Homo sapiens: one gene and its partners. The protein of the gene in region 4 purifies or fractionates together with the protein of the main gene of each other region. This does not show direct contact. Each region holds a gene or a part of one and is shown on either strand. Other genes may lie near its edges.

Evidence for each region.
Region 1: the proteins of GNAQ (region 4) and PI4K2B fractionate together in Homo sapiens (co-fractionation; one large-scale study listed by BioGRID). This does not show direct contact.
Region 2: the proteins of GNAQ (region 4) and TMEM184C fractionate together in Homo sapiens (co-fractionation; one large-scale study listed by BioGRID). This does not show direct contact.
Region 3: the proteins of GNAQ (region 4) and CXCR5 purify together in Homo sapiens (co-immunoprecipitation; one study listed by IntAct). This does not show direct contact.
Region 5: the proteins of GNAQ (region 4) and AGTR1 purify together in Homo sapiens (co-immunoprecipitation; one study listed by IntAct). This does not show direct contact.
Region 6: the proteins of GNAQ (region 4) and ZDHHC9 fractionate together in Homo sapiens (co-fractionation; one large-scale study listed by BioGRID). This does not show direct contact.
Region 7: the proteins of GNAQ (region 4) and TMEM248 fractionate together in Homo sapiens (co-fractionation; one large-scale study listed by BioGRID). This does not show direct contact.

Annotation. Positions count from the first base shown.
Region 1 is NC_000004.12:25,271,695-25,275,707, reverse strand, and holds part of PI4K2B (phosphatidylinositol 4-kinase type 2-beta), read right to left. Parts: intron 1-4,013. UniProt on the Homo sapiens protein: Together with PI4K2A and the type III PI4Ks (PIK4CA and PIK4CB) it contributes to the overall PI4-kinase activity of the cell. This contribution may be especially significant in plasma membrane, endosomal and Golgi compartments.
Region 2 is NC_000004.12:147,630,384-147,634,396, forward strand, and holds part of TMEM184C (transmembrane protein 184C), read left to right. Parts: intron 1-1,009; coding exon 1,010-1,122; intron 1,123-2,489; coding exon of another isoform or gene 2,490-2,490; exon of another isoform or gene 2,491-2,519; coding exon 2,520-2,619; intron 2,620-3,381; coding exon 3,382-3,553; intron 3,554-3,785; coding exon 3,786-4,013. UniProt on the Homo sapiens protein: Possible tumor suppressor which may play a role in cell growth.
Region 3 is NC_000011.10:118,882,255-118,886,752, reverse strand, and holds the start of CXCR5 (C-X-C chemokine receptor type 5), read right to left. Parts: upstream 2,862-4,498; 5' UTR 2,812-2,861; coding exon 2,761-2,811; intron 627-2,760; exon of another isoform or gene 1-626. UniProt on the Homo sapiens protein: Cytokine receptor that binds to B-lymphocyte chemoattractant (BLC). Involved in B-cell migration into B-cell follicles of spleen and Peyer patches but not into those of mesenteric or peripheral lymph nodes.
Region 4 is NC_000009.12:77,724,057-77,728,069, reverse strand, and holds part of GNAQ (guanine nucleotide-binding protein G(q) subunit alpha), read left to right. Parts: intron 1-4,013.
Region 5 is NC_000003.12:148,735,578-148,739,590, reverse strand, and holds part of AGTR1 (type-1 angiotensin II receptor), read right to left. Parts: intron 1-4,013. UniProt on the Homo sapiens protein: Receptor for angiotensin II, a vasoconstricting peptide, which acts as a key regulator of blood pressure and sodium retention by the kidney.
Region 6 is NC_000023.11:129,833,730-129,837,742, forward strand, and holds part of ZDHHC9 (palmitoyltransferase ZDHHC9), read right to left. Parts: intron 1-4,013. UniProt on the Homo sapiens protein: Palmitoyltransferase that catalyzes the addition of palmitate onto various protein substrates, such as ADRB2, GSDMD, HRAS, NRAS and CGAS. The ZDHHC9-GOLGA7 complex is a palmitoyltransferase specific for HRAS and NRAS.
Region 7 is NC_000007.14:66,927,620-66,931,632, reverse strand, and holds part of TMEM248 (transmembrane protein 248), read right to left. Parts: intron 3,874-4,013; exon of another isoform or gene 3,856-3,873; intron 1,019-3,855; exon of another isoform or gene 771-1,018; coding exon of another isoform or gene 765-770; intron 1-764.

The DNA of each region.
Region 1 (4,013 bases), on a different chromosome or scaffold from region 4:
TTCTTCCCTTAACATTTTCTTTTTTTTTGTTTTGTTTTGTTTTGTTTTTGAGACAGGGTCTTGCTCTGTCACCCAGGCTGGAGTGCAGAGTGCAATCACAGTGCACTGCAGCCTCTGCCTCCTGGGCTCAAGCGATCCTCCCACCCCAGACTCCAGAGTAGCTGGGCCTAGAGGCACACGCCACCTCAGCTAGTTTTTGTACTTTGTGGAGAGACAGGGTTTCGCTTTGTTGCCCAGACTGGTCTTGAACTCCTAGGCTCGAGAGATCCACCTGTCTCAGCCTCCCAAAGTGCTGGGATTATAGGCATGAGCCACCACACCCAGCCTTCCCTTAAAATTTCCTAAATTGACTACATTTGGATAACAAGAAAAAAAGAATTTATGAAATTTGAGTTTATTATAAGCATTGTTCCTACCATGAATATAAAAGTGTGCACTAGCACAGCTAAGGAAGGAAATGTTTTGGTTAGTTTCCTCTTTGGGTTTTAAGAATTCTATTCTAAAAATGTTAGCCTAAATATACCAATTTAAGTAACAGTTAATATTTTCCTGACTCTAAGAACAGTATGTGACTCTTGCAGAGAATATGGAAAACAGAAACGTTGACCAGGTGTGGTGGCTCATGCCTGTAATCCCAGCACTTTGGGAGGCCAAGGCGGGTGGATCACTTGAGGCCAGGAGTTTGAGACCAGCCTGACCAACATGATGAAACCCCATCTCTACACAAAAATACAAAAAATAAAAATTAGCTGGGTGTGGTGGCACATGCCTGTAATCCCAGCTATCAGGGAGGCTGGGGCACAAGGATCGCTTGAACCTGGGTGGCAGAGGTTGCAGTGAGCTGAGATCGCGCCACTGCATTCCAGCGTGGGTGACAGAGGGAGACTCTGTCTCCAAAAAAAAAAGTATAGGAAAACGGAAGTTGCTCTACAAATTATTAATTTTCAAATAGTTACAGAAATTGCATAAATTATTAAATCCTGAAATTAACCTATTAATATTTCTTCGGGAATTCAGAAGACACTTGATAATCCTGCATTTATTTACTAAGGAAACACTTACTGAGCACTCACGGTGTTGGGGAGAAGAGGGGACCAAATGAGGGAAAAGCCATGTAAGCCCTTAAAGAACTCAAATTCTAGAAGCAGCCACATGAACAAGTAATTGCAATACTTGTGTGTGATGGAAAGGACCTCTGCCCTGACTTTAAAATCTGATCCCCTCTCCCCAACATACCACCTAGTTTTTCATTTCTCAAAGAATAACAAATCTATTACTATCTGTTTAAATCAGAGTGGATTATTTAAAAAAATAGAATGGAGCAAATTCTGCAGGCCAGGGGAGACACTAGACTTCTCCACCCATGCCATAATGACAGCTTGACGGGGATGTGACAGCTGTGGTCCAGGCAGGTGGTATAAACTTGTGGGCTTCTACATACTGACTTTGCTTTCCTTTAGATTAGTTCGCTGGTCTTTAAATTTCCGTGGGCCTGAGAATTACTGCACTATATACATCAAACCACATATATTCTACTTTTTCGTAGATTTTAAGCTATCTCTCTATAGCAATGTACCCCATATGTTGATTTAAAAACCAAATTTCTGAGTAAAATGTGACACCAGCATATTCCCAGGGAGTGCTGCAAAAATCAGAACAGGAGGAGTTTAGGAAGACTGACGTGGATGTTGGAAGAAAAACTGTTTCCTAGATACAGAGGGCAAGGCATCGAGGGGAAAGAATCGCGTGCGCAAGAGCACCACTGGGAAAGGGGAAGGAAGAGCAGTTCAGATTTGCCAAGCCCAGGGAGAGGGGCAAAACGGCAAGAGATAAAGGTAGATGCACTGTTTGGAGCCCGACTGTGTTGTCGACTGTGCTGAAAGCCTGGACTTGAGCCTGTACACATGGACAAATTATAGGAATTTTAAATAACAGAAGACATACTCAGATTTGTTTTTAGAGATTGTTCTTGTTTCAGCGTGGAAGAGGAATGGGAGAAGAGGGAAGGTCAACTTAGAATGTCGGTAAATCCAGAGGAGAGATGATAAGGGCCCCGGGCAGAGGCAATGCCTAAATGTTGCCGATTGGCCAGGCTGGCAGGCGCCCTTATTTCACAGATACATGTTATTAAAGCCCTTTGAGCCAAAGTCATTCCACCTAAAACGTAGACTACTCTGTGGAGGTGTTTTGAGGATAAACAATAATAAGCATCATTAAAGTGTCCAGTAAGGGGTCAAGTACCAGGAGGTACTAAAGGGTTAGTTTCACTTTCTTTAATGTCAATTATTATTGAATCTGTAAATGAGTTTCTGGTATATAAATCTCTGAAGGTAAGTTCATTATGTTTTCAGAAAAAGTTTTAGTTATTATTTCTGCATTTTTTCAGGTCACATGGAAAATATATTTCACATTGCTTATAAGTAAATATATTCTCAGTTTCAGTGTTCCAAATTAGAATATAAGATGAATTTTACCTACCCTGATTATGACCTATTGCTATTTAATATAAAATTCAAAACATTGTTTATCTTTAACGTTCATAAACATTATTACCAGCTCTGAATTAAAAAAAAAAAACTTTCATATTGTTTCAGTCCACATCTTTATGTGAAGAATTAGAGCACGCCATTGATATATGTGTAAAACTAACGGCTTACTACAAACTAGGGCAAAAGACTTGGCTGTAGAAAGCACAAACCATTAAGTTAATAAGCAAAATTGGAAGGGAGAGGGATTTAAATGATATTTATAACTGACAGAAATAACACAAGTATTTTGACTTGAGGAATTTGCTGAAGTAATTATTCTGTTGTTTGGAATATAGGTAAATTTTTTTTTTTTTTTAGAGACAAGGTCTTTCTCTGTTGCCCAGGCTGGAGTGTAGTGGTGTGATCACAGCTCATTACAACCTTGAACTCCTGGGCTCAAGCAATCCACCCACCTTGGCCTCCCAAACTGGGATTACAGGTGTGAGCCAACACGCCTGGCCCAATACCTGATTTTTTAGATCTTTTTTTCCCTTCTTCTTAAGAGATGAGGTCTTGGTCTGTTGCCAAGGCTGCAGTGCAGTGGCTATGCACAGGTGTCATCACAGTGTACTACAGCCTCGAACTCTTGGGCTTAAACAATCCTCCTGCCTCAGCCTCCCAAGTAGCTGGGACAACAGCCATGAGCCACCACACCTGGCCTTAGACCAACTTTTTTTTAAAAAGTAAAAACAGCCAAAACCAGAGAGCTACATAGTCATGTACATGGTCAGGACATATTATCTTTTTTGGCTATCGGAAAGCTCAAAATCAAATTAAAATTAAAAAACAAAACAAAATCAAGTGACAACGTATAATAACCAAAGTATCATCATTTTATTTCTTTCTCTCCTAAGTTGTTGACCCTGTCATCTTCATATTTTATTATATTCATTTTTATAATGCCTTTTTCTTTTGTACATGAGATAAGATATGAGTAAATAAACCTAAAATAGGAGACAGCCACAGACACATCTTTGTAACAGGCCTCAGAACTGGAACACTCCCACACCTTCTTAGACAGGCTTTTTTTTTTTTAAGACAAGGTCTTGCTCTGCTGCCCAGGCTGGAGTGCAGTGGCGCAATCTCAGCTCACTGCAGTCTCCCCCACCTCTGGGGCTCAAGTGATCCTCCTGCCTCAGGCTCCTGGCAGCTGGAACTACAAACACATGCCACCATGCGTGGCTAATTTTTGTATTTTTTTGTAGAGATGGGGTTTCGCCATTTGCCCAGGCTGATCTTGAACTCCTGAGCTCAAGCAATCTGCCCTCCTCTGCCTCTCAAAATGGTGGGATTACAAGCATGAGCCACTGCACTCAGACAGGTATTTTTTAAAAATTTAAATTCCTCAGGTGTTAACTTTAAACCACAATTAAAGCTGACAAAATTATTTAACAGCTTTTATTTACTTCTTTATTTTAAATCAGATTCCTAAAATAAAAATAAACCTTTAGGGATAAGAAAGTTCCAGAAGATGAAGCATATTGA
Region 2 (4,013 bases), on a different chromosome or scaffold from region 4:
ATCCTCTTTGGAACCAGTAATTCTGTTTCTGGGAATGTATTCTAAAGAAGTGTTCAAAAGTATGTTTGCCTAAAGTATCTTTGTATATAAAGCCCATTACTTGTAAATAACAAAAGGCTGAAAGCAATCCAAAACCCAATGTTAGGGACTAGTTGAATGCACTGTGGTCTTTCCATTGGCCAAAATATTAGGCAGTTACTAAAAATAAGCCTGATGAAACATATAGAAGTTATGTATTTTAAGTGGAAAAAACATTAGGCAATAAAATTTTATAATTAGTTCATGACAGTTATTTAAAAACTGGCTTATGTGTAAAAAGGATGATTGGACACCATGAATCACTTTATTCTTTCTTTCTTTACTGGTTTCATATTCTAAAATACTTTGAATTTGCATTTTATATGATTTTAATAGGGAATAGTGAACTTTCAGGAAAATGTTTATTGTTATTCAGCACTACACTAGGTTATTACAGATTTCTAAAAAGTTAGTAAGTCTTGTTCATTTTAAAAAATAAATCTAGCTGAACTAATACACCGCTCTCAGGAAAAATTGTTTGATTCTTTACATTCAGATTTCATAGTCACAATTTTATTGAAATTGTACTTGTTTAATGGGTTACTTTAGTTACATAGGATAGACTAGGTAATAAGCTAAAGCCTCATAAAATGAGTGGTCAGAAATTTATGTTTAAAAGCCGTTACAGATGGATTTTTTTATTTTGGCTGAACAAGAGCCATTTCTTCCATTTATGTCAATCATTTGTTTATTGTTCCCTTTATGGAACCCAGGAAGTGAACACTTAAAAACATTTTTACGGAAGATGTTGTATGTAGTATATATTCATCTATAGTAAACTATGAAAGCTTGTTAATCTAAAAATAGAATAATAAAGCCTAGAAAAGTTTGCCTGAAACATTACTCTGTACCAGGTCTCTGGTATGTAACTTTAATATTTCTATTACCATATCTATTACTGAACAAGTTTAAATGTTAATCTTGTTTCTAGTTTGCCATGTATTGTCTCCTGCTCTTTTATAAAGTACTAAAAGAAGAACTGAGCCCAATCCAACCTGTTGGCAAATTTCTTTGTGTAAAGCTGGTGGTTTTTGTTTCTTTTTGGTAAGTGTTACTTTTTTTTAAATGTTCTCATTTTTTTAAGGGCAGTAAAAACCGTTGATTAAGGAGGATTTTTAAACAGTCTTAATGCGGAAGATAGATTAAAATGTCTCTACTTCTCTTTTTAAAAGTTCATCTTTTTAGCCCTTCTACAATTTTCAAAAGAAATAATTAGATGGTCGCTGTAACATTTATATGAAGAAAATAGTTTGAGACAACCTAAATATGTCAATACTAGAATAATTATTAAAATAAATCATGGCCCTGTCATATAATAGAATACTATGGAGTTTGGAAGAAAGCATGATGTAGAATATTTAATTATATGGGAAAATAATCAGTAAATCTTTTTAAAACAGAAGGTAAAACTATACATAGTTCAATATAGTAAAGAGGGCCGGGCACAGTGGCTCACGCCTGTAATCCCAGCACTTTGGGAGGCCAAGACAGGTGGATCACCTGAGGTTGGGAGTTCCAGACTAGCCTGGCCAACATGGCTAGTCTCTACTAAAAATACAAAAATCAGCCAGGCATGGTAGCAGGCACCTGTAATCCAAGCTACTTGGCAGGGAAGGCAGGAGAATTACCTGAACCCAGAAGGCAGAGGTTGCGGTGAGCCAAAATCATGCCACTGCACTCCAGCCTGGGCACCAGAGTGAAACTCTGTCTCAAAAAAAAAAAAAAAAAGAATTTAGTAAAGAGGTGGGTAATAGGGGTCCTAGAAACAAATACACCAAATTTAACAAGCTAGAAACAATACAAAAAGGGAAAAAGAAAAATCCCTGAAATCCCACCACCCAGAAAAGAATGATTAACATCTTGGTAAACCTGTGTCACATATAAAACTCCAGAGAAAGTTTCATACTATAAAAATTTTTGGAATTCGACAATGTTCAGTAGTATATTGTAGATACAGTTCTTTGTCAGTAAACAGAAATATTATTTTGTTTTGTGGAGGGGGTGATTTTTATTTTTATTTTTATTTTGCTTAGTATTCTGTTATGTGGATATAACTTTTTACTAATCTCCTTTTGATATTCAGGTTGTTCCTAATTTTTTTACCATTATAAGAAACACTGAAGTGAATATTCTTATGTATACAACTATGAAAGCATGTCCATGTCATTATTTGCTGTTTAAATTTTACCTGGGGCCATTATCTCTAGATTTGCTTGAAATGCTCAGCTTGACTCCCTATCTTGAGACAAAACTACTAGAAAAATGAATTTGTAAAGCAAATTAATATATTTAACATAGAGTTTCTTCAGCAATATGCTGTAAAGGCAGGGTGGTGGTGGTACACAGGTTGCACTGGATTTTTTTTTAATGGCACATTTTTAAAACTACTGCTCATTTTATGCTTGATATAGATTTGGCGTTTACCTTTTCCTAACATATAGGCAAGCAGTAGTTATTGCTTTGTTGGTAAAAGTTGGCGTTATTTCTGAAAAGCATACGTGGGAATGGCAAACTGTAGAAGCTGTGGCCACCGGACTCCAGGTAAGTAGTGCCATCTCTGAATTCAATAGAACTTTACTATTTGTTAAGCATTTTTACATATCTCCACTAAACCTGACAACACACAGGGTATGGGGCTATTATCCTCACTTTACAGGTGAGAAAACAGGGGAACCCTAGAGAAATTGGCCATAATTACTAATTTGTAGCAGATCCATGAATAAAACCTGGATTTCATTATTCCTAAGTCCAATTCTCTTTCCACATTTCTCCTTGTAGTCCTTGGGTGGTGGAATGCAATATACTTGATGTGATTGAGAATGAAATGTACTTTGCTAAGAAATACTTGAGGCTGGCCTGGTGCAGTGACTCACGCCTGTAATCCTAGCACTTTGTAAGGCCAACGTTGGGGGATCACTGGACCAGGCATTCGAGATCAGCCTGGGCAACAAAGAGAGACCTCATCTCTACAAAAAACTAAAAAATAAAATACTTAGCCAGGCATGACAGCACATGCCTATACTCCTAGTTACTTGGGAGGCTGAAGTGGGAGGATTGCTTGAATGCAGGAGTTCAAGGCTGCTACTTGAGGAAGTGCAAAATAGATTCACATTTTGGCATTTTGTCTTTTTTTGAAGGGGTCAAAAATAATTATTTTAGAAAATGGAAAAATGAATATAATCTGAGAAGAAAAAACACAGCTGTTTATCTTAGCACTTTTGAAAAGCAAGTAGAGAAAGATAGCACTCTACAAACCTAGATTTAAATCCAAAGGTGGCTGTTATCTTATTGTTGTTCTCATAGGATTTTATTATCTGTATTGAGATGTTCCTCGCTGCCATTGCTCATCATTACACATTCTCATATAAACCATATGTCCAAGAAGCAGAAGAGGGCTCATGCTTTGATTCCTTTCTTGCCATGTGGGATGTCTCAGATATTAGAGATGATATTTCTGAACAAGTAAGGCATGTTGGTAAGTACCAGCTATTTAATTCAACCAAATAGGTTGGGTAGGATATTGAATTTCTCCTACTAGGGCAATTTATTATCTATTTAGAGATGAAAAAAGACTTTAAAGCAGTACCACAGTGCAGGCTCATCAACTTTGGGGAGTGGGAGAGGGGGAAGTGGGGAGCTTATTTTTAGAATGGTAAGTTTATAATGGTAAAAATAACTTTTGACTAACAGAAAACTTTATATTAAAGGACGGACAGTCAGGGGACATCCCAGGAAAAAATTGTTTCCCGAGGATCAAGATCAAAATGAACATACAAGTTTATTATCATCATCATCACAAGATGCAATTTCCATTGCTTCTTCTATGCCACCTTCACCCATGGGTCACTACCAAGGGTTTGGACACACTGTGACTCCCCAGACTACACCTACCACAGCTAAGATATCTGATGAAATCCTTAGTGATACTATAGGAG
Region 3 (4,498 bases), on a different chromosome or scaffold from region 4:
GTGTGCAGGGTGGGGCTGGAGGTATAGTTTATGACCAGCCTCTGTGGATGCCCCAGCCCAGGCCCTGGTTCTGTTGGAAGGAGGCTCTCAGATCGAGGGTCGCATAGACAGGGTCTGCTCTAGGTCTGCCAGGATCGGCCTTTCCAGCAGGATGGGTCCCTGGCATACCCACCCCAGGACCTGGAATCTTCTTGTTCCTGGTTCTTAGCCATCTAATTTTTGTTCTATTTGGACCTTTCATTGATGAGAATTAGCAGCCCGTCCCCACCCCCCAGCCCCTGCCTTAAAGAAGTGGACATTTTAAGCGGCTCGAGTTGGTCTTCGAGTTCAAGAGGACAAATGGAATACAGAATGACGAACCTGGCTTATGGCCAGGAGCCCCCAGTTCCTTTTTTTTTTTTTTTTCTGGCAAGTTTGTGTAACCAAAAGGCCCCAGTTCTTAGCTCAACATGAGAGTGTAAAACCCAGCGTTCAAGGAATGTGAACCAATACCTGGTATGGGCAAGGACAAGGAGGAGAATAGGAAGCAGAAGGAATAGAAGGACCCAGACTAACTCCAGAGGAAAATGGTGAGCTAAGACCTTTACTGCATCACAAATCAATAAATACTTATTGAGAAGCTGCTACATGCAAGATTCTCCTGCCTGTACCACTACGCCCGAGGTTTTTGTACTGTGACACTGAGGGACAGTCTGCCAAGCTGCTCACGGCCCTTCAGTGAGTGGGTGGGGGCGGAGGAGAGGGTCTGTGTTCTGAGGGGACATTGGCCCTGGAGACAGGGTGTGTAGGAGATTCGTGAAGGGGGAACGAGGCACTGGTGGCTGGCTGAAGAGCTCCAGAGCCCAGATGGTCCTAGGACTCCTGGGCTCCTGGCTAGACCCTGAGTGAGGGATCCAGATATTGGAATGCCTGGCTGAGGATCACTCATTTGAGGTGTGACATGAAGAAAGTCACTGGGTCCCTTTCCCCCAGATGTAGGTTTTCTTGGGACATGCCCTGCTGCCCCTGCCCCCTGCCCCCACCTGTCCCTAGTAGGTCACTCAGTGAGGTGAGGCGTGCAGTTAGGGGAAACTCTTAAGGTTTCTCAGAAGCTGGGACCCGCCGGGTCTCCAGTTGGTTACTAAGATGTCCAACTGGGTCAGGGCTCGTGGTCAGTTTGAAGCTGCAGGCAGAGGAAGACGCCCAGTAACCTAATCAGGCGAGGCCAGCGGCTGTGACCGGGGGCCAGGGTGGGAGCACATTGCCCCTTTGGGGCCGCGGGTTTTTAGTCTGATTTGGGGTATTGCCCAGACTCTGTGATTAGACTCAGGGCAGCTTCATGGGCTTGCAACTGGGGCAGTCACACGGGGGCCTGCACCCAGCAGGACCCCCCACGAGGTTTAGTGCTCTGCTGTTGCCTTCTTATTTATAATAATTTTTCAACAAGGGGCCCCATGTTTTCATTTTGCATTGGGTCCCACAAATTATGTAGCAGGTCCTGGTTAGATGAATGGTCCGGCTCTGATTCCACCTACGGTTTGGATCCGAGGGGCCAGGCTTTGGGTAGTCAGCCCTTCTGCCCACTTTCTCCCCGTGTCCTACTTACACTTCCCAGCCTTGGGATCTGGGCAAGCGAGAGGCGGGCTTCTCTGAGCAAGTCTGGGAACATGGTTGGTGGAACTACAAAGTCCACTCCACAAAGTCCACTCCAGCCGGGGGAGCAGGAGGGAGTCAGACAATATCTTAGGGTAAGTTTGGGACAGGAGAGTTGGTAGGAGCCAGGGTTTGGCTCCTTCATGATCTAACCCAGAGTGCAGCCCCGAAACAAGTCCTCTCTCCAGGGGGAGAAAAGACAGTGAAGAAGTTTCCAAGAAACCCTTACAACCAGCCTCTGCCGTCGGCTCACAAGGAACCCTGTGTTTCTCTGGTTGAGCTGCTCCACACACACACACATCTTCTGGGAGCCCAGTGACAACCAAGTCAACTGCACCACTACGCTTCACTGGAGAGACTTGAGTGGTGGCAGCGTAGTGCTGGAGACCATTTTCTTAGCCCACCCAAGAAACCTTTCCAAGAATACCTTATCTCTAGAGATTCTACAACAGGTTCCAAGACATTTGTCAGATTAACAGTTTTCTCACCCTGCTCCCTGACTCCAGCCTGCTGGGATCCTCTTCCTTGCTACCATCTGGTCTCACATTCCCTCAGTTTAGCACATAATTGTTGCCTAATAGCTTCCAGTGAGTGATTTTTTTCTCTGGCCAGAGCAGAAGCTATTTGAGGGCAAAGACCAGGTCCTCAACTTCTCCACCCAACACAGAATGTAGTGCCCTGATGACATAATCATATGGCCAGAGACGAACAGCTATGCATTCATTGACTGATTAGCAATGCCAGCCTCCTTACGGTAAGAAAACCTCCAAAGTACTTTCCTGTCTAGTTCCATATTCCGACCCTAAGAGAAAAGGAGAGAAAGAATGGAGAGGTGAAGTATCCTGTTCCCAGTCACATAGCAACTCAGAGGAGGATGCAGGGCCTGAACCCGTGTCTTCCAGCTTCCTCTAAAGGATGTCTCCTAAGGACAGCAGCTCTCCTTATCTGCTTCTTCCACAGAATGGAAAATAAACTCTTAAAGGGCGGGAGCTGACTGACCTGTCTAGATTTTACAGATCCACAGTGGGAGAGGATTCCCACACTGTCCCCTCTCCCTCGGACTCTGGCAAAGGATGTTAGAATTCCAGACAGGGCCTCGGCGACAGGAAGCTACCCGTGTCTACTCACCAGGTCCTCCAGGTTCTCGAGGTCCATTTCCAGCGTTAGCGGGTAGTTCATGGCTGTGCCGGCTGTGAGTCACCAGACTGGTCACTGTCTTATGTTGAGAGGCTCCCCGCCAGGTGCCTCTAGAGAGGTGGCAGCCGTCAGCTGCAAATTTAAGCAAATGAGCTGCGCATCGTCTCCTGAGGCAGTAGGGCCGCGACCTGCCTCACAACTCATCACTTTTTTTTTTTTTTCCACTGGGTCTTTTCTGTTTTTTTGAAGAAAGAGGGAAAATCCCCCACAGCATCAGTGCTAGTCAAGCATTTCAGCTTCTTTCCCGGCAATAATTGTCTCAACTGGGGCCTATGACTAGTTTAAAGGCTGCCCTCACTTCTCCTCCCTATACCCCCAATAAGGGGCTCACAACTTGTAATGAAACCACCACGCAAAGTCAGCAGGTTGATGAGGGAAACTCCTGATCAACAGAGAACAGGAGAAGAGCTCTCCCAGCAACCTCTCCTCCAAGCCACCTCCAAACCTTCATTTTCCTCACCACTAGGGTGATCAACCATTCCAGTCTGCCAAGGACTGAAAAGTCCCTTGACTTGGGAAACCCCTAAGTCCTGGCAAGTTAGGGCACTTGGTCACACTACTTGCCACCATCCTTTTGCCCAACAGAGGCAAAACCCCTTCCCTTCTCAGCTCAAGTTCAGAAAAGATAGGTTAGAATTTTTCAAAGGGAACAACAGTAAAACAATACTGGAAGACAAAAATGAAATCAACTTTGGAAGGCCGAGGCAGGAGGATGGCTTGAGGCCAGGAGTTGGATACCAGCCTGGGCAACATAGCAAGACCATGTCTCTAAAAGAAAAAAAAAAAGTGAAATCACCAAGAAAAGCACATAGTTACAGAGTCATTTTCTGACTCAAAAATAATGATGTTCTATCTATAAATTAACTTTGTTTGCTCATAAATTATTAACCTCATAAACTACCAAGCTAGAGATGGCTTCAGAGATCATCCAGTCTAACCCTCAATTTTTATTCAGGAGGTCCGTGAGGCCGAGAGGGAGAGCAACTTACCCGAGATCCCACAGCTAACCAGTGGCAGAGCTGGGACTTGAACTCAGGTCTTTTGACTCCACCTTTAGTGTTTTCTCTACTCCAGGCTGCCACTCTTGCAGGCACTCATAACCTCTGTCCTTTCCCTCAACTCTGTCCTGTCTGAGGGCCGCTTCCTTTAAGAAGCCGTTTTGTAGATGTTGATCAATTTCCCTTCCAAGTCTCATTTTGTGGCTTTTTCTTCCAGAAGTGGGCATTTCCTCTCTTGATCCACAATGATGTGAGAAAGATGACTGCACGCACAGAGGCACCCACACATGGTGGCTGCTTCTTGGCCCCACCCCCACCCTTGTTATCACGCTCCCTTTCAGCCAAATCGCCCTTTGCTGGGATCCTACTACCCTTTCCAGTGCCCTCCTTCACCCTCTCCTCCATATTCACCTTCCCTCTTTCCCCTCTTCACACCTTGCTTACTGAAGATGCTTACCCCACTGCATCCCCAACAGATGCATCATTCTTTTTTTTTTTTTTTTTTTTTTTTTTTGAGACAGAGTTTTGCACTTCTTGCCCAGGCTGGAGTGCAATGGCATGATCTTGGCTCACCACAACCTCCACCTCCCAGGTTCAAGCGATTCTCCTGCCTCAGCCTCCCGAGCATCTGGGATTACAGGCATGCACCACCACGCCCGGCTAATTTTGTA
Region 4 (4,013 bases):
TGAGCCAAGATCGCGCCACTGCACTCCAGCCTGGCAACAGAGCAAGACTCTGTCTAAAAAAAAAAGAAAAGAAACTCATCTGCTTTGAAATAGCAGATCAGAAAAAGGAACAATCCAGTAGTTTTGACCAATTGTGTATTAACTCTTATAGTCCCCTCTGTGTCTCCCTTTCATTTGGTTACCGTCCACCTCTGCCTCTCCTCTCTCTGGGGAGGAACACAATTTTGAAGTTAAGAGCCCACCACTGAAATCAGTCTATCAAGGTTGAGATCCCAGTTCTGACACTTCCTATTTGTAGAACTACCATCAAGTCACTTGATTTTTCTGGGCCTTACGACCAAACTCATAGGATTGTTTTGTGCACTGTAGTATATAACATATGTGTACGTTTAGCATGATGCCTGACACGTAGGACACTTATGAATACTCAGGAAATACTTCCTTTTTTGAAACTTCATAGCCCAATGAAGTCCCACCACCATTACTAATAGTAACCCAGTGTTAAGCTCTTTGTGCAGCACTTAGAATCTATAGCATCCACTTCACTACTCCTATGGCTCTGCATTATTTGCTTTGTTCTTAGAAAAGGATCTTACCCTCCCCAACTAGACTGTGAAATCCTGGACAACTAGACACCCAACCCATTCTGAGAAACACTTGAACACTTGGTGATTGGTAACAAAATGCATCCACATGTAGCCACTATGTAAAACAAGTGAGAGTCACGACTGCTGCCCTATAAGAGTCTATGTGGCCAGGTGTGGTGATTCACACCTGTAATCCCAGCACTTTGGGAGACTGAGGTGAGAGGATCACTTGAGCACAGGAGTTCAAGCCCAGCCTGGGCAATGTAACGAGACCTCTATCTATAAAAAATGAGGCAGGAGTTGGCAAGAGGTCAAGACTGCAATGAGCCATGATCCTGCCACTATACTCCTGCCTGGGTGATGGGAGACCCTGTCTCAAAAAAAAAAAAAAAAAAGTTTATTTATTTGGCAAGATAATCACATCTCTCCCTTATGGCCCACCACCTGGTTTTATGAATAAAGTTTTATTGAGACATAGCCACACCCATTCATTATACACTGTCTATGGCTGCTTTCACACCATAACAGCAGAATTGGATAATTGTGACAGAGATAGAATTGTTTGCAAAGCCTCAATTACTCTGTGGCCCTTTACAGAGAAAGTTTGCCAAGCCGTGGTCTAGATAGTTAAGAGCACAAGCTCTGAAAAGTTCCACTTTGCCACTCACTGTCTGTGTTGCCTCAGACAAATTTATTTAGCTACTCAGTTTATCCCTGGGCAAGAAAGAATTGAATGGAATCATACATATATCACATAGCAGAAACCCAAAAGTATCTACCATAGAGGTGATATAACAACAAGAGAAGAGACTATTTTTAAAATTACATTGTCAACATATGATATCCAGGATGGATATCATTCCACAGTGTTTTTGTACTTACTAAAAGCTTCCTCAGAAAAGTAATTACTTTAAAAACCAAGATTAAATTTAGCTTCATAGCTTTCTATGATGATACAAACACATCAGGGATGGAGGTTTAGTCATCTTTTCATCCCACATGGAATGTGGTACAGTCCTGGCTCATGAAAGGGAAATGTTACATGTTAAATGAATTGAAGTTCCCTTCTCAAATACATGTAAGATCCTGAAGGTTGGTGAATTGAAAATATAAACATTTGTGGATGTCACCAGATGTTAGAAATGGTACCTTTTGTTAGCATTGTGTTCATATCCTCTCTTCAAGTACATTTTCCTTTGTGCTTTGCTGTTCTTTGAAAAACACTTTCTCAGTCTAAACAGTGTTTTCTCTTTCACTCCTTTTAATTTGCACTAGCCCGGAAACAAATCATCAATGCCTGAGACTGCACTTCTCAGTGTTGCTCAGAAAACTATGGAAGGAAGTGACTGTGTGGGTAGTTAACTTGCTTTCCCACCTCAAGCTTCAAACACATCTACCTGAATACAGTAGGCATGAAACATCTGGCTTAGATCTAAACACGCTTGCCTGCCACACACACACACACACTCGAGGTTCTTCTTAATTTTTCTTGGAACTTGGTAAGAATCAGCGTGTGAGAAATTGCCACACCATACACAACACCCCATCTTGTGGGCTGGCACGTTTTCATGATGTGCTTGCATAAGGGAGGATGCAGAACAGATAGAGCATGGTGCCCACGGAGGTGAACCCTTCTGAGGGGTTCATTCAAACTTCTCAGATGCAGCATACCTAGCCACACTTCACAGTTGCTGATTTTTCCGCAATAAAAGACTTAGTTTGTGATCAGTGCTTGCAGTGCTGTTTTTTGATCTCTGCACCATCTTCCTAATCTCTTCACGTACCTCCTTTCTCCAATAATTTCCCCAGATTCCCCACCACTACAAGCATTTTCCTTCCAGCATGTGCCCATTGTGAATATTCTGAAATCTGAAGACTTTTTTTTTTTTTTTTTTTTTTTTTTACTGTTACCTTACCCCAGTATACATATAATGCACAGAGGAAACTTGGCCACAGAAAAAGAAAAAAGACATTGATTTTGTTATTACAAAGCCAGCGCAGCAGTCATTACGTGAAACTCCAAGCCCTTGTAAGATGAGCAAACACTGAAAAAATTGAGGCCCACTCTGCAGTGATGTTTTTGTAATAAGCATGTTTATAGTATTATAAATTTCACACTTCCACATTTCTATACTTACAAGGTCTTAATCATAATGAATGCCATTTCTGTATTTCTCTTCAAGAAAGGAAATTACCCTTTCCACATGGACTTGAATTGCAAGATTGTTCATAGAGACTGTGGAATTCTGCTCCTGCTGTGATGGCTGTAATGAGTTCTTTGTAGTGTATGTTTATTCAGATAACAATTTATGCTTAAAAACATAACACTTTTCAAGTACACTTCAGTGAACTTGGATCTAGTTCTTATATTCTGTAGGGTAAATAAAAAAGAAAAAAAAAAGGTATAGTCCCTTCCTTCCCAAATAGAGTAAGTACAAAATCATACAGAAGTTCATTCAGAAGCCAGAAATATAATGTTCTTTTTATGAAATGAGAGACTTCTCCAGCTCTGGTAATCTGTTACTTTCTGGTTTTGAATAGTTTTTATTACTTCTCTGGAGTTAATAGTACATTGAAAAAGATGGAACATTAATTATATATATATTTGCTTGTATATATACTTTACATATTGTTTTTAATTGTACTTTTTATCTATTAAATATGATGCCAGCCCTCTTAGTCATTAAAAAAATTGAATTCTGGGCACCTACATCAAAAATTCAACATTACTTTTTTAAATTGTACAAATGAGGATAGTCTATTTGTTTTTATAATTCTTTCCTCCCATCTTCTGGCATTATCAGATATAAGTTTATTGGAGTAATCTCCAATTTATAAAAAGGTTGGTTTGAGAATAATTCAAGTCAGCTGTCTGAAGCTCAGGGTGCATTTTGTTAGAAATGGTGGTCAAGCCCTCAATAGAGTTCTGCAAGATCTCTTTATCCCTACTAGTAGGTAACAAGAATATTGATGATAGAAAAAAACCTGCTGGGTGTGGTGGCTCACGCCTGTAATCTCAGCACTTTGGGAGGCCAAGGTGGGCGGATCCCTTGAGGCCAGGAGTTGAAGACCAGCCTGGTCAACATGGCAAAACCCTGTCTCTTCTCTTCTAAAAATACAAAAATTAGCTGGGCATGGTGGTGCACGCCTGTAGTCCCAGCTACCCACGAGGCTGAGGCAGGAGATTTCGCTTGAACCCAGGAGGTGGAGGTTGCAGTGAGCCAAGATCATGGCACTGCACTCCAGCCTGGGCAACACAGTGAAACTCTGTCTCAAGGAAAAAAAAAAGTTTCTTATTGCTTGGTATAGAACTAACTTGAAAAAATAGGAGGAAATGCATATATAAAGCAACACAAAGACAGATATATGATACGTATCCAATACTTGAAAGGTGATGGTGTTTTGATGTTATTTACAGTAAGTTTT
Region 5 (4,013 bases), on a different chromosome or scaffold from region 4:
AAGTAAAGTTGTTCTCCCTATGTAAGTTTTTGGTTGCATGTCCTCATTATTGTTCCTTTTTGCATCCAGCTTATATAATGTACATCCTTTTCTTCTTTGACTCACCAGGACATTAGTATCCACAAACAGGTGTTATCTACCCTAAATGTCACATCTTTGGTGAAGCCTTCCCAACTTTTTTGAGCACTTTGACATTTTGGATGTAGGTTTGACACTTTTTTTTTTTTTTTCTGAGACAGAGTGTCACTGTATTGCCCAGGCTGGAGTGCAGTGGTGCGATCTTGGCTCACTGCGATCTCTACCTCCCAGGTTCAAGTGATTCTCATGCCTCAGCTTCCCTAGTAGCTGGGACTACCAGTGTGTACCATCATGCCCAGCTAATTTTTTTATTTTTAGTAGAGACGGGGTTTTGCCATGTTGGCCAGGCTGCTCTTGAACTCCTGACTTCGGGTGATCCACCCGCCTTGGCCTCCCAAAATGTTGGAATTACAGGCGTGAGCCACCGCACCCGGCCTTGAAACTTTATTGTAATCATCTGTTGACATATCTGTCTTCTCCACTGGTCTGTCAGTTGCTTGTGGGGAGAGCCTGTTTAAAGTTTACTAGTGTTTACTTGTTTCCTTGTTTTCTGGTGTAGGCCCTGGTATGTTCCAGGAGGCAGATGATAAATGTCTCATGAATGAGTGACTGAATGGACAAATGAATGGGTGAGCAGCATAGAACTTACAGCCATGAATATAGTGTATCGAGACTAATTTCTGTGAAATCACATGTTGCTCCTTGCAGAGTTTCACAGAGAATACTCAGTGTCAACTTGGGCCTCACCTTGGACAAAAAAACAGAAACAAAAACAAAACGAAATAAACAGGTAGAAAATTCCTTGGTGCTTTTAGAAACTTGTGGTTTAGAAAACAGAAGATGAAAAGAAGAAATAATGTAACAGAAACTAGGGCTAGGCTTTTAGGGAGGTATGACTAGTTCTTCCTCACCCAGAGGATTTCCCTATACCTTGTAGATTTTCCAGTTCATCTTACTATTTTTTCTGAACTTATGCCAACTTAGAAGTATAAATTCATTTATATAGACACATATTCTTTATTAAAAATTAATTAGTCATTAAAGGGTTAGGGCTAGCAGTCATTTGTGGCTTAATGTGGATTAATTTACCTATTTACTATCCTTTTAACCATCTAGTAGAGATCAGCTGGATTTTGCTTAGAAAAAGAATTAATAATGTAAAGGTTAAGGAACCTCGAAGGTTGAAAAGGGCCTGAGTGAACTCCATAACTGAAAATGAGGGCAGAGGTAAATATTTGGTTCAGCTTGGGAATAAGGGCAGTAAAAAATAGAAGGGAGTACACTTTACGCTCTAGAATCCCTTGGGTGCCCTGAGCTATGAGAACAGGGAGGAAATTTTCTTCTCCTTCTCTCTCCTCTTGACTCGACTTTGACAGCACACAACTCATGTGGGTTCCATTAATCCTATGTTTGGAGTGAGTAGAATTTTATTAACTAGTCTCAAACTATAACTAGCATTCATAATACAATTTCTGTGGGAAAAAGTCTGCCTTTGTGAGGATCAATTTATAGGCATAGTTTTGTACTCCAACTCCTTCACAAGCTATCAGCCTTTTTTTCAGTTACCATTGATTCATATTGACTGGTATTTAATATATAAAAGGTAGCTTTGAACAGCTAGGGGATCATCCCTGGAAACTTCGGTGAGGTATTATTACCTTAATGAGAATTCGCTTGAAAGAATCTGGACATAGCATGGAATATGCCAATTAGAAGAACATTTTACATAAATGTATAATGACCAGAACTCCCTGCCCAATAAAGAAACAAATTTTTTCCTACTCGAGGGTGGAGGAAAAAGGGAGAAGAATTTTAGGCGATAGAAACAGTGGAAGGAAGCACAAGGAAGTAGCAATGCAAATAGCACATTCAGTGGGTATTCACCAACTCATCACATATTCACTGAACACCTACCATGTGTGGGTGTCCAGGATGCAAGGGGAATAAAGTCACAGTTCTCCTCCTCTACACAGTTTAAGTCTAGCCAGGGGGACAGGAGCCTTAAAGGCAGTATTATCTTTAGTGTGTCGAATGTTACATCATATCAGAGGCATGTGGAATACTCTGTGTTTATCACTGACCCAGATTGGTGGGGAGTGTGGGGTTTGGGGGAAGGATGGTGAGAGGGCAGTGGGGGTGGGGAGAGGGATCAGGAGATGGCACCTGGAAACCAGCCAGGTGGAGTAGAGATGGTGTCATCACTTGAACTTTGCCCTCCTTACTAATGCCTGCAGCATCATCTATGGGAAACAGCTCTCATAAATTAACAGATATTGCACAACGCTCTTGGGGGTGTGGGATCTGGATGTGCACTGGGCATTTCTAGATGGGAGGGTGACATAGGCCATTTCCCAGTCTGCACTTCTGCTACTGATAAGCTTCCCTAGAGAAATTTGTTTCTAAGGAAAGAAATAAAGATGGGACTTTTGTGATTGGCAGTTACTTTAGATTGATGATAAATGAGTGGGAAACAGTAGGGCTCTTTTTTCTTTGAAGCTGAACGGATGCTGGTTTGGTGAGAAGCCGAAGGAGAGAGAGATGTGATTGACTAGAAAAGCCAGATTTGTGAGATCTAGAAAGCAGCTATGTTTCAGTCACATCCTGCTTCTTTTCCCAGAAGAGTTACAGGTAGATAGAACCCTGATTAAAAACATAGGAGGATCCACCTCTTCCTACTTTTCCTATTTTTGGTCTTACTATTCCTTTTATCCAAGCTCTGTGGCTTACATGAATTCCATAGCACCATTTCCCCTTAGAGAAAGGAAGATGAATTTGGGGTTGAAAGACTTGAAATGGAATCCTCCTTTGCCACGTACAAATCTGTGTGGCTCTGGGTAAGTCATCCAATTTCTCTGAACATGACCCTCAGTTTTTTTTCATCTGTAGGAAACATGAACAGTGATATTTATTGCACATGATCTTTGTAGGAATAAAGTGAGATAATGTTAAAGCACTTGGTATATCTTTCAAATAGTGCTTAATGAATATGTTTTACTTGAATCTTTACTATTATTTTTTGAATGCAAGGCAAACATTGACTCAGAACAGCCATGGGTTAAGAAAGCGTGAGAGTAAAGAAAAATGTTTATCATAGGTAAGTTCCTTCCATTGCCATTAAAAGTCTAAAAATTCCAGGCTGTTGTTCTTTCGAAGTATGAGTAAAAAATAATCTTAAGCAGCTGAATAAATTTGCCATGAGTGAGGTGGGAATCTAAGTCTGTGGCAAACATAGGTGTTGGCTCATTGTGGCCAAACCACGTTTATTTTACAATTGCTTTTGTAAGAGTTACCTTATATCCTTTGACAGCTTTCCTGGTTCTTAAAGCATAAGAATGAAGATTTTCTTTCCTTTTTTTATTCTAAGAATGCTTTCCCAAGACTTTTGATTAGAATATTAATACCTTCTTAAGCTTTTAGGCAAGCCAAAACCAATCTAATTAAATTGTTCATTACAAGCTCTTTTTAAAACTAGTTTGCAATCTAAAGAAAAAAAAATTCCCCATAGTTTCCTATGATAATAAAGAGAGAACTAAATGACCAAGTAATTATATTTTGGAATAATCTTCTATCAAAGTATCTCTCTCAAGCATCAAAAAGAGTAGGAAAATGTTTGTAAGCCATTTGCTTATAGTGCTGGACAGCTCAATAAACCATCCTGTTCAATAAACTGTTGTCTTTATTGTTCCTATTTTATAAGTCAGACTTAGAAAGGAACTGTTTCTGCTCCTATGTTGCTTCCCCCACCTCTCTCTGCCAAGTAAGGCCACAGGAAATAACTGTTAGCTATTCACTTGTGAAATCATTGACCCATAGAAATTGGCACTAATATTTCTAGGCTTTTTACTCGTTTCTTTTTCAGATCTACTTGTTCTTATTTCTTAGCCCTCTGTTCCTATTTTACGAAGTCTACTTCTTCTTTTATTTTCCTTAACATT
Region 6 (4,013 bases), on a different chromosome or scaffold from region 4:
CAAGTGTTAGAATGGTGACTCAGCCTCTAAGGGCTGTAAGTGGTCAGGGAAGAGCTCTGTAGGGGAGCTGCTGGCTGCTTGAAACTGCTCCAGTAGCAGCTGGTAAGTATGGCTTTAAGGAAGAAGGCCCAAGGATCAGAGCCCCATGATACTCTTTGGTCACACATGGGAGAAATAAGCCTTTGCTATAATACCTCCCTGATATGGATGGCCATCTGTCCTCTTACTACCTACCTGCTACTTACTGAATGTCTGTATCCCTGCAAAATTCATATGTTGAAATCTTAACATCCAATGTGATGGATTTTGGAGGTGGGGCCTTTGGGGGGTGATTAGGTCACCTAAGGCTCCACCCTCATGAATGGGATTAGCATCCTTATAAAAGAAATCCTGGCAAGCTCCCTTGCCCCTTTGGCAAGGGAGAGAAGACAGCCATCTATGAACCAGAAAGCAGGCCTTCATCAGTCACCAAACCTGCAGGCATCTTGATCTTGTACTTGCCAGCCTCCAGAACTATGAGACACAAATTTCTGTTGTTTATAAGCCACCCAGTCGATGGTAGTTTCTTACAGCAGCCAGAACAGACTAAGACACTACCTCTAGAAGACAATAAACATGTAGAACCACCCATTAAGACTGTTTCAAGATTCTTCTGATGACCCTCAGAGTCTGCTGAGAGGGGAAGTTTCCCTTAACACTAAAAACATAATTTACAATCAGCCTCCAGATTTACTTCTATGTGAAGGTCAGAGAAAAATGCACAACCCTCTTTTGCTCCAGTAGCAATAAAGAAAATTAACCAAACAGGGACACTTTCAATTCTGAAGTGAGAAGCCATCCTCTCATCAAAATCTCTATCCAGGTAAACCCGCTCAGTAGTTTCCAAATTTCAGTTATAATAACAAAGTTCAAATTTCAGTTACAATATACCCCTGCTCGAGAACTTAGAACCATTCACTGCTGCCTATTATATTATGCCCCAAACTCCACAGGTCAGTATTCCAAGGCTCTCCATTAACTGGCCTTATCTAATCATCATCATAGGGGCCCTGTCTTCCCCACTCCATTCCAGAAACATCCCACTAATTAATTACCCTGAATTAGCTAGCTTCTTGCTACTGCAAATAGCCTAAGGTACCTCCTTTGTTCTTAAGCACAATACCAGCACCAGCATCTCTGAGGAGAAAGATTTAGGAGTCTCTTCTTTCCCTCAATAACATCTCAACTGATGTCAGCATGTTGGGGAACATCCCTGTTCTCTGGGCTTGCTTTTCCCAAAACAGAGGATCACTATATTTAATTAAGACTCATCCTCAAAAGATGGGAGAGGCATTCAGTGGAGACTGAAAATGTGAAACTCATTACCACAAAAGGAAATAGAGGCTGAAAATGTAGAGAAATTCTGAATGACAGAACCATAAAGAATTATTAAAGGAGCCAGGCATGGTGGCTTACACCTGTAATCCCAGCACTTTGGGAGGCCAAGGCTGTTGGATCACTTGAGCTCAGGAGTTCAAGACCAGCCTGGGCAAGATGGTGAGATCCTGTCTCTACAAAAAATACAAAACTTAGTCAGGCATAGTGGCTCACTCCTGTAGTCCCAGATACTTGGGAGGCTGAGGTGGGAGGACTGTTTAAGCCCAGGAGGCAGAGGATGCAGTGAGCCAAGATCACACCACTGCACTCCAGCCTAGGCAAGAGAGGGAGACCCTATCTCAAAAAAAAAAAAAAAAAGAGGAAAAAAAAGAATTATTAAAAGAAAGCAAACTGCCGCCAGGTGCAGTAGCTCACGCCTGTAATCCCAGCACTTTGGGAGGCAGAGGCGGGCGGATCACCTGAAGTCAGGAGTTCGAGACCAGCCTGGCCAACACGGAGAAACTCTGTCTCTACTAAAAAATACAAAATTAGCAAGGCGTGGTGGCGCATGCCTGTAATCCCAGCTACTCAGGAGGCTGAGGCAGGAGAATCGCTTGAACCCGGGAGGCGGAGGTTGCAGTGAGCCGAGATTGTGCCATTGCACTCCAGCCTGGGCAACAAGAATGAAACTCCGTCTCAAAGAAAAAAAAAGAAAAAGAAAAGAAAAAGAAAGCAAACTGTTCAGGAGATACAACCCAAGGAACTCTTGGGAAGAACTCTCTCTCAAGGAACATACTTCATCAGGAAGTTAAGTTTAGCTAAGTACTGTAACAGATTGATACCAAAGAGGCAACTATGCCTTTCTAAAACTCATTTGGTTAGTCAAGTCACAGACAGAATCCGAAGCTAGATAAAGCCAAGACTGACCTCCATAGAGTCATTCCCCAGAGAATGCACTCTTGGTTACAGAGCACAATATAGTCACTTTTTCCTCTTCCCAATCTCACATAAGGATGCTCTTCAGGAACCTGGACCTTGTCACTGTGGGCACTAACATTCTGGTATGTCAAAGTTTGGCTTTGGTCTACATAGTCTTGTGTCTCCTCAAACCTAGTAAGTTCATATTATCAGGTCTGCTTTTTCTATTTCACCTGTCTGCCAGACACACCTCCTCTTTCTTTTTTCTATTTTATTTATTTATTTATTTATTTAGATGGAGTTTTGTTCTTGTTTTGTTGCCCAGGCTGGAGTGCAATGGCACAATCTCGGCTCACTGCAACCTCCGCCTCCCAAGTTCAAGTGATTCTCCTGCCTCAGCCTCCCAAGTAGCTGGGAATACAGGTGTGCACCACCAAGCCCAGCTGACTTTTTGTACTTTTAGTAGAGACAGGGTTTCACCATGTTGGCCCGGCTGGTCTCGAACTCCTGACCTCAAGTGATCCACCTGCCTCAGCATCCCAAAGTGCTGGGATTACAGGCATGAGCCACTGCGCCCAGCCCACACTGCCCCTTTCATCAGGATAAGTCACTAAGTAACAATGTACAGAGCACACATTGCTTGATTTTTCTCCAAGCCATCCTCATCTTGGCAGCAGGGACCAGGAGTGGCCACAGCAGTGATGATCCCTTGTTAACTCACAAAGCTCCTGATAGGCTTCCCTGTTCCTGCAAGGCTACCAGAAATGCCATGCTGCAATACCATCAGTTCTCTGCAAAGATGCCTTCATTTTCTAGGAGCATAAGCTTGGGAGACCCAAAGAGCCTAGATGCCACTGGGTAACACACACACTAGCTCGCAAGAATCTGGAATATGCTGGCCTAGTATTTGGTACTATGTACACTTTACTAAAGCATGTGTGTTTGAATATCTTCAGGATTCCATAGCCAAAGGGTAACAATGAACAATGAGATAAAATGTCGAAATTAGAAGAAAAAGCCCTGAGTCAGTATAGAGACGTTGGCTGGTCAACTCATCTTGATAAAGGAAACTCACTTCTGTGGGCCTGGTTTCCTCACCCCACACAAGGAGGGAGATAGTCTCCAAAGCCCTTTCCAGATCTACCATCCTATGATTCTGTGGGTCAAGATTGTTAAATTTTAAGTACATCTAGAATGTTTTAATTCAGCAACACTTATTGGCCATCTACTCTATGTAAGGCATGGTAGAGAGCACTGTGGGGGCTACACAGCCATTGAACATAGTCTCTGACCTTGAAAGAGACTAGCTGCGGGGGACAACAACAGTGAGAAGTGTAATCACCATATAGCTCCAAACTATAAGAAATGTCATGTGATTATCTGTTGAATGAGCGGTGTGTACAATTAGCCCAATGAATGCAGAAATTACTGGAAAGTTTTCATGAAGAAAGACTCAAGAAAGAATTTGAAAGAGGGGTAGAATTTGGATAGGCTAGAAAAGTATTGTTTGTATTGATTACTATTGATTACTAAGCAGTGTTACAAAGCTGTTTTCAGTTCATCCAATTCAATGACTCTTCTGCCAATATATACATCAAAAGCTCTAATGGGGACCAACCTGACAGAACCTGGTCTGACAGTGCCTTGATAAGATTTCCTTCATATACAGAGGACACAGTGAGACCATAAGCACTGATTATAGCAGCAAACTGCTTCTGCTTCAGGGGTCAAGAGTCTCA
Region 7 (4,013 bases), on a different chromosome or scaffold from region 4:
TAAGCATGGTGGTGTACACCAATGGCCCAGCTACTTGGGAGTCTGAGGTGGGAGGACTGGCTCAGCCCAGGAGGTCAAAGCTATAGTGAGCTATGATCATGCCACTGCACTCCAGCCTGGCCAACATGGTGGAAAAAAAAAATGTAATTTTGCAACTTAATAACATTTTATCAGAAAAAAAGTAAGTTAACATTCATTATGCCACAGACACAGGAAGCCTTTCAGTTTCTCCCTCTCTCCAAAGCCCGCATATGTACACATGGCTACTTGTCCAAGTTTTAAACTAACTTTATTGTAGTTTTAAACTGTTCTTTTTTTTTTTTTTTTTTTTTTTTGAGATATTGTCTCGCACTGTCACCCAGGCTGGCATGCAGCAGTGTGATCTCTGCTCAACCTCTGCCTCCCAGGTTCAAGCGATTCTCCTACCTCAGCCTCCCAAATAGCTGAGACTACAGGTGCACATCACCACGTCCGGCTAATTTTGATATTTTTAGTAGAGATGGGGTTTCACCATGTTGGCCAGGCTGGTCTCAAACTCCTGACTTCAAGTGATCCACCTGCCTCAGCCTCCCAAAGTGCTGGGATTCCAGGCACAAACCACCACACCAGGCCCACCATTCATCTTAAATGAGATTTTCTACCTTAGGTTAAATGGGAAGTTTCTGAAAGTTGAGGAAGAGAGGATGGGAGAAGCAAGCCTGCTCTCTACGCCAACCAAAGGAAATACATCGGACTTGTGCTAAGACAGAATGACAGAAACTCACCTTCATGTAGCAGAAAGTAGCATTTCTCAAATATCCTGTGATGTCTGAGACCCTCAAAGAGCTTTAAGGCCGGGGTTACAAACCCTGAGCCTAGTAAACAACAGTCATCGATGCGATGCCAGATTATCCAACACTTAGAGCTGAAGACACTTACTGGTATCAAAGAAACCCTGTGCAAGCTCCAGCACCCAGCTGCCCCAAGCACTGCGCAGAAACCATCTTCCTGCCCCACCGCAAAGCAGTGCAGGCAGAATGAACCTTCAGAGAGACAAGTGAGAAGCAACGAAGACACAGGAGAACTTCAAGGTCTCCAGTAATCTCTGGGCTGCTAAGTCCAAAGCTGGAGCTCCAGTCCCTAACTCATGTTGCTGCAGCATCTGATACAGAAGTGGGGTGGATCCTCTCCCAGTTTCCACTCCGGGTTTTCTTAACATTCATCTGGCCACCCCTTCCTTCTCAGGATCCTTCAAAAGCTGGTGTTCCCAAGTTCCAGCTGGGGCCTCTGCTCAAGGGGGACACGCTCATTCATGCCTTAATCCCATTTTATGTACCTACTCACCTCCAGATCCAAACAGTCACCTACTGGAGCTATCTCCTTAGATGACCCAAAGGCCATCAAGGCCAAAACTTATCCCAAGGCACCAAACTGGCTCCTTCCCTAAGGAAAAACACCGTCATTTACCTAGTGATCCCTGCCAGTCATTCTTTTTTTTGAGACAGGGTCTGGCTCTGGTGCCCAGGCTAGAGTGCAGTGGTATGAGCATGGCAGCCGCCTTGACTTCCTGGGCGCAAGCGATCCTCCCACCTTGGCCTCCCAAGTAGCTGGGACTACAAGTGCATGCTACCACTCCTGGCTAATTTTTGTATTTTTTGTAGAGATGGGATTTTGCCATGTTGCCCAGGCTGGTCTCAAACTCCTGGGCTCAAGCGATCCTCCCGCGTCAGCCTCCCAAATGCTGGGATTACAGACGTGAGCCACTGCGCCCAGCTCCTGCCAGTCATCCTTGACACTCTGGCTCTCCTACAACCAGTTACCAAGTCCTATCGTTTCCACATTTTAAGTGTCTCTCAAGGGCAGCTCTCACTCCATCCCCACTGACACTGCCTCCCTGCACCCTCAGCCAAATTAAATTGTTGTCTGAGCCGGGTGCTCACAGATGTAATGCCAGCATTTTGGGAGGCCGAGGCAGGTGGATCACCTGAGGCCAGGAGTTTGAGAGCATCCTGGCCAACATGAAACCCCATCTCTAATAAAAATACAAAAATTAGCTGGGCATGGCGGTGCACGCCTATAATGCCAGCTACTCAGGAAGCTGAGACAGGAGAATCGCTTGAACCCGGGAGGCGGAGGTTGCAGTGAGCCAAAATCAAGCCACTGAACTCCAGCCTGGGCACGAGAGCAAGAGTCTGTATCAAAAAAAAAAAAAAAAAAAAAAAAAAAATTTGTCTCTCATTTCCATGATATTGTTTCTGCATTCCTCCTACCTTGGACAGTGCCTGACACCAGGAAGGTGCTTAACAATAATAACGTCTACCGTCATTGCCTACTTTTTGAGAGAGGCACTGCTCTAAGAGTTTTGCACCTATTGTGTATGATCCCTAAAACATCTCTATTTTACAGATACGGAAATTAAGGCATATAGAAGTCAGCTAATGTGCCCATGATCACACGGGAAGTGAACCTGGATTCAAATCCAGTTGGCCTCCAGAGCCCATGCATTAACCATTAAGTTCTACTTCGGTCCAATAAATGATATAGGTTTGCATAAAGAAGTCAATCTGGCAGGGCACAATGGCTCCTGCCCATAATTCTAGCACTCTGGGAGGCTGAGGCCAGCCGATCACTTGAGCCCAGGAATTCGAGACCAGCCTGGAAAACACAAGAAGACCCTGTGTCTACAAAGAATACAAAATTTAGCTGGGTGTGGTGGTGCACACCTGTAGTCCCAGCTACTTGGGAGGCTGAGGTGGAGGGATCACCGGAACCCAGGAGTTTGAGGCTACAGTGAGCTGTGATGGCACCACTGCACTCTAGCCTGGGAGACAGAGTTAAACCCTATCTCAAAAAATGAAAATAAAAAGGAAAAAAAAAATTTTTTTAAGAGTCAATCCCATCAAATGAGAAAAGGCAGAAAAGCATCCATATAATTTTGCAATCGAGACATCAATAGTGATGTAAGCAAAACCCCTTTCACTAGGGTGATAGAGGCAAAAACCAGGTGACAAGGACGAAGGAGTGAGAAGAGAGCATTCTTAACAGCTACCACTTAGAACATGCCATTCCCAGGCACCGTGCCAAGCGCTTAACATATTTTTTAATCCTTGCAACACTGCTAGATAGATACTACTATTCCCACTTTACAGATGAGAAAACTGAAGCAAATGAGCTTAAGTAATTTGTACTAGGTCATGCTGCAAATAAATGGCAGAAATGGATTCTGACTTAATTCATCTGACCCCAAAAGCCATGCTATCAATCACAATGCCAAGGTTGATAAGACAGTTTCAAGTCAAATGCCAAAGTGAAAAAAAAAAACAACTCACATGCCATAGATATACAAAGTGCATTTTAGTCACTGATTTTAACAAAGACACAAGTAAGAGATCAACTTTTTTGAAGTTTAAAATGTTTAACTTAGTTTCTTTTTTTTTCAAGACTGAGTTTCACTCTCATCACCCAGGCTGGAGTGCAATGGCACAATCTCAGCTCACTGCAACCTCTGCTTCCTGGGTTCGAGTGATTCTCCTGCTTCAGACTCCTGACTAAATGGGATTACAGGCGCCCACCAGCAGGCCTAGCTAATTTTTGTATTTTTAGTAGAGACAGGGTTTCACCAAGCTGGTCAGGCTGGTCTTGAATTCCTGACCTCAGGTGATCCACCTGCCTTGGCTTCCCAAAGTGCTGGGATTACAGGTGTGAGCTACCGTGCTCAGCCTATTTTCCATTTCTTTAGCAGGATTCCTCCCATCTCAGCACTCATTCATCAGTTAAGAGTATGAAGCAAAGACTGGCACAGTCTTCTGCCAATAGTGTCTTGTTTCTTAATGTGATACAATTCACAGTGTAGAACAGACTTTCACAATAACTCACGTTTAAAAGGAACCAAAGAGAGACTGGGCATGGTGTTTCATGCCTGTAATCCCAACACTTTGGGAGGCCAAGGTCAGAGGATCACTTGAGCACAGGAGTTCGAGACCAGCCTGGACAACACAGTGAGACCCCGTCCCTAAAAAAAAAAAAAAACAAAA